Regions from separate parts of the Homo sapiens genome. Here region 2 is linked to region 1. Evidence: fine-mapped expression QTL. A gene starts in region 1. The other region holds a variant in brackets. All regions are shown on one strand. Distances are from middle to middle.

Region 1 (2,500 bases):
AATGAATGAATGAGTCAGTGAAGGAATGAGGAAGACAGAATGAGTCAGCTCGTGCTTTCAGAGGAGCCCAAAGGGAGAGGTTAAGATAGGAATGCAAATGACCAGAATCCAGAGTAAACGCGAGCCCACCAGCGTTTTGGAAGCAGTCCACTTTCTACCCCCTCCTATTTAAAATGCTTCATTCTTTCCAGTTCCTCCCCACCTAGAATCCATGGAACCAAACGCTGGGGTAGGGACAGTGGCCAGCCTGTCTCCTTGGGTTTGACGCATTACATCATCCACGTGGAGGTCCCCTGTGGAGCTCTGCAGCCCTGCAGCCTCAGGGGCAGGGGGGTGGGGAGAATGAGGAAGGGGGAGAGGGGGAATAGGAGGAGGGAGTAGGGGACAGGGAGGGAGGAGATGCCAGGAGGGTAAGTGGAGAAGAGGGAGGCGAAGCCGGGGGCAGCAGGGGAGGGGGTCAAGGAGGAGGAAAGAGGAGAGCTTGGGGAGAAGGAAATAGGGAGGATGGAGAAGTTTTGGGCTGGGATAGGCAAGAAGAGGGAGGAGGAGAGAGGAAGAAGAATAAAGGGGGAAGGGAGAAAGAGGGGGAGGGAAGGGAGGGGGAAGAGGTCAGGGAAGTGGGGGAAGCAAGCAGTGGGGGAAGAAGAGGAAGGAGGAGGGAGAGGAGGAAGGCGGGGTGGGAAAGGGGGTTGGGGTAGTGGGAGTTTCCAGGGAGGGGTCGGGAGGGGAGGAGGGGAAGTGAGAAGGAGAAGGAGAGAGAAGAGGGATGTTGGGGGAGAAGAGAGCGGGAGGGAGGAGGGAGAGTGAGAGGGAGGAGGCAAAGCCCCTACTCCAGCCCCCACCGCGGAGTTGCGCAAGCCTTCCGGTCTGGGATTGGCCGCCAGAGAATCAAGACGCTCCGCCCCCGCAGCCCGACGGCCAATGAAGAGGCGGGCCGCCGCCTGGGCGGCCAATGGGCGCGGGGGGGCGGGGCGGGCCACGGCCTGGGGTCCCCGCGCGCTCTCCGTCCGCAGTGGAAGCCGCCGCCGCGCTCGCAGCTTGCAGGCGCCGCGTAGCCGTCGCCACCGCCGCCAGCCCGTGCGCCCTCGGCGCGTACCCGCCGCGCTCCCATCCCCGCCGCCGGCCAGGGGCGCGCTCGGCCGCCCCGGACAGTGTCCCGCTGCGGCTCCGCGGCGATGGCCACCAAGATCGACAAAGAGGCTTGCCGGGCGGCGTACAACCTGGTGCGCGACGACGGCTCGGCCGTCATCTGGTAGGAACTTTTCATTCGTCTCCACGCCCCGCTCCCCGGGCTCGCGCGGGGCCTCGTGCACCGAGCCGGCCTCCAGGCGGGACGGATTCGGGCCTCCCGCGCTGTCTTCCTCGCCTTATTCCGGGACGGCGTGCCAGGCCCCCGCGGGCTTCTCCGTGGCCAGCGCGTCTGTTAGATTGTCCTCTGCAAGCGCCGCGTCGCGCGGCCACCAGCGCTGATGTGTGTGTGTGTTTTTTTCTTCTCCCAACCCAAAGGGTGACTTTTAAATATGACGGCTCCACCATCGTCCCCGGCGAGCAGGGAGCGGAGTACCAGCACTTCATCCAGCAGTGCACAGGTAGGGAGGCGCGCCTGCCGGGCGGATGCGCGGTCGTTGGGAGGTTGTCTGCACCCGGGGAGCCCCGGCCAGAGCGAACCCGGGAGGAACCGGTGGCCACATGGGGTGCCCCTGGCGCATGGCGTGGGAGGAACCCGGTGTGAGCGTTTTAAGGCCTCATAAAACCTTCTCCCCTCTGGACATCCGAAGCAACAGAAGTGACCCACCTGCCTCCGCCATCCTACAATGCCTTCTCCAGGCGGGGCAGCTCTTTTGCCCCCTGCGGTCCACTGGTTTTCTAAGGTCAACTCCTGTGTTTCCAAACTCCAGTGTCCATCCAGCTCTTCCCACTGTCCCCTTTGATCAGTCACTGAGCCCAAATACGAACAGGCTAGGGGGCTGCTTGGAAGGGAAAGAAACTCAGCCGCGCCCTCCTTTCTCCCGCTATCATTGTCTGCCCGTGTGCTGATTTTATGTGATTTTTAATTTGACGAGTAGAATCAGATGCAAAAGAGTACACACCATATGATTCCATTTAGAAATCCTAGACAAGGCGAAACTAATCTATGGTGTGAATGTCAGAATCGAGATTAGCTTTTGGGGCTAGATAGCCACTGATGGGGAGGGGCACACCACCCGGACTGCTGGGAGCTGAAAATGTCTCTGTAGACATTTGTTGATCTGGGAGGGGGTTATGCAGGTGTGTACCCGCGTGAAAAATCATCAGACTGTATACTTAAGATTTGTGTGCCTTAGGCACTTCCCTGTGGCTTGTGAACCATGAAAAGAAAGACCACGTGGCAGGCATCGCCATAAACCCTTCGGTAGTGGCAGAGGCTCTGTGATGTTGGTAATGGGACCTTTTAAAGAGATTGGAGAATGCGACTCCCTCCCATCTCTGGTCTTTAGTTGGAAGCAAGCTTTCGGACAAC
Region 2 (3,007 bases), 45 kb after region 1:
GAGCCGATCGCACTATTGCACTCCAGCCTGGGCAACAGAGTGAGAGTCCGTCTCAGAAAAAACAAAAACAAAAAAACTGGTCTTCCACTTGCTGGTTGCATAATTCCAAACCATTCAAGCAGCTTCAGCCGCTTGGAGTGAGACTTCGTCGGATGAGGCCCTTGGAAGAAAATCCTGCTTTGGCAAGAAAAGAGAAGTCCCCCGTCTGGCAGCTATGAGAGAGCGACACCGAGTTCCCAGACAAAACAAAGAGCTTTCTTCAGCCACAGGTGACGGTGCCCCCAGACTGACACATGTTGCTGTGCAGTCTCTGGCAGGTTGTGGCAGCTGCCTCGAGGGCTTGGCAGTCTAGAGCAGCCCCTGGAGGCGGGATGTGGGGAGAAAGTGGGGCTGGCACCAGGAACGCATCCCCAGGGCCCTGCCGGGAAGTTGCTGTGTCCCCTGGGATGAACTGCGTCCCCTCTCTGGGTTGTTGCTGGTCCTCTACATAATGAAGAGGTGAATGGCAGGTCTCAAGGGTGGAGTGCAGTGGTGCGATCATGGCTCACGGCAGCCTCGACCTCCCAGGCTCAAGTGATCTTCCTGCCTCAGCCTCCCAAGTAGCTGGGACAACAGGCGCACACCACCACTGTTGGCTATTTATTACTATTATTATTATTATTATTTGTAGAGAAAGGGTCCCACTGTTCCCCAGGCTAGTCTTGGAACTCCGGGGTTCAAGCGATTCTCCCTTCTCGACCTCCCAAAGTGCTTGGGATTACCGGCGTGAGCCACAGCGCCCCACCTCCCTTCACTATTTTGTTCAGCTGAAACACAATTTACATAGAGTAAAACGCAGAGATCTTCGGAATACTACTCGTTGAGTGTGTGTGTGTGTGTGTGTGTGTGTATGTATATATATATATTTTTTTTTTTTTGAGACAGAGTTTCGCTCTTGTCACCCAGGCTGGAGTGCAATGGTGCGATCTAAGCTCACTGCAACTTCCGCCTCCCCGGTTCAAGCGATTCTCCCGCCTCTCACACCCAGCTAATTCTTTGTATTTTTAGTAGAGATGGGGTTTCACCATGTTGGCCAGGCTGGCCTTGAACTGCTGACCTCAGGTGATCCACTCACCTCGGCCTCCCAAAGTGCTGGGCATGAGCCACTGCATCTGGCCCAAGTTTTGTGTATTTTGAATGTTCATGATGCATACCTTTGAAGCCACCACCCAGATCTGGACATGGCGCAGATGTCCACCCCTGTCGGATGGGCTCTAATGCTCTGCGATTCATGATTCTGTTTGCCTGATCACATTATTCTTTCAGACGCTTTC[G/A]TGTTCTGTCTAGACCTGCGCTGTTGCTGGCCACGTGTGGCCACTGAGCGCCTGAAAGCGCACCCAGCCATATCAGTGTGTGCCGTATACCCGGAGGGCACACAGCGTTTCTAAGGCTGGGTTCAAAAGAAATGAATGTAAAGGACCTCGTCAGTACCTTTTAGCATTGATTACATTGTGGAAATGACAATATTTTGCATATATTGGATTAGATAAAATACTATTAAAATAAATGGCACTGGTTTCTTTCTTACATTTTTCAATGTGGCTAGTAGCAAATTGAAAATTCCCGGCCAGGCAAAGTGGCTCACGCCTGTAATTCTAGCACTTTGGGAGGCCGAGGTCAGTGGATCACTTCATCTCAGGAGTTTGAGACCAGCCTGGGCAACATGGTAAAACCCCATTATCTACCAAAAAAAAAAAAATTAGTCGGGCATGGTGGTGTGTACCTGTAGTCCCGGCTACTTCGGTGGCTGAGGTGGTAGGATTGCTTGAGCACAGGCGGTGGAGGTTGCAGTGAGCTGAGATTGCACCAGTGCCCTCCAGCCTGGCAGCGTGGGTGACAGAGTGAGACCTGTCTAAGAAAAAAAAGGAAAGAAAGAAAATTCAAAATTCTGGCCTTTGGGAGGCCAAGATGGGTGGATCGCTTGAGCCCAGGAGTTGGAGACCAGCCTGGGCAACATGACGAAACCACGTCTCTACAGAAAAATACAAAAATCAGCTGGACGTGGTGGCTTGTGCCTGTATTTCTAGCTATTAGGAAGGCGGAGGTGGGAGGATCGCTTGAACCTAGGAGGTTGAGCCTGCAGTGAGCCGAGATCGCACCACTGCACGCCAGCTTGGGTGACAGAGTGAGACTGTGTTTCAAAAAAAGAGAAATTAACATTCTGTGTGTGTCCGCATTGCTCTAGGCCCTGGAAGTCTCCTTCTGATGAAGGACTTGCCTCCTGAGTCTTGCCACCTGCCCCTGCCCCCGTGGGTGTTGGTGGCATGTGGGTGCTGGCAAGTGCTGTGTCTTGAGGTGTGTGTGGTGTAGGGGTGGCCACGCTTTGCATGCATATGTTCCCTCTGGTTTCCAGCCTCAGGTGCAAGGCAGACTTCAGCTGCTCCACGCAGGCTCCCTCCAGTTTCAGGCATTGCTCCCAAGTCAGAGTCTGTCTGCCCAGAGCTGTTTTGCTCAGCTTCTGCCTCGTTTTGAAAACATGCAATGAAGCCCACTCCCCAGTGGTGCTTGCAACTCCCTTATCTCATGGGAGCCGCTGGAAGGCGTGGAGGTGGAGAGGTGTGGAGGTTGTTGTCAGTTGGTTTTTAGGCTGAGGCTCAGGTTAGACATTTTGGGGACATTCTGTGGAGTCCACGCCCTGAATGGAAGGTGCTGGCTCACCTTTGTAAGCCTCTGGGGGCTTGGGAGCACCCCGTGTAGGATGGAGGCCTGCTAGTACCCCCTCCATGCGGCCTGACCACCTGGGCCCCTGCAGAGTTGCTGCTGGCCCTATAGAAGGTGGGAGCGGCTCGGTGTCCACTCAGGAGCAGGCTGGGGTCCAGCTCTGGCTGCAAGGGAACTGACCACTGTTGGTCACAGGCCCGTCTCACCGTCTCACCCATGTGTCCACGTGACGTCCAGGCAATGGGCCCGTGCATGACCAGTCTGCCGGTGAGGTGACAGCGGGGAGCCGATCCCAGGGGGATGATTG

The links.
Region 2: its variant is fine-mapped to the expression of COTL1 in thyroid (GTEx, PIP above 0.99). The same link has a PIP of 0.9 or more in tibial artery.

The regions. Positions count from the first base shown.
Region 1 is chr16:84,616,590-84,619,089 of GRCh38, reverse strand. COTL1 (coactosin like F-actin binding protein 1) reads left to right here and starts at 1,012. Exons shown (of 4, transcript NM_021149.5): 1 at 1,012-1,252; 2 at 1,507-1,589. The coding sequence starts at 1,176. RefSeq lists silencers at 754-1,113, 1,134-1,183.
Region 2 is chr16:84,571,651-84,574,657 of GRCh38, reverse strand. The region is part of intron 3 of COTL1 (coactosin like F-actin binding protein 1); the gene reads left to right. Among named protein-coding and RNA genes, the nearest start is that of COTL1, 45 kb to the left of the region's middle. RefSeq lists an enhancer at 1,803-2,335. The variant G/A (reference allele first, on the strand shown) is at 1,314.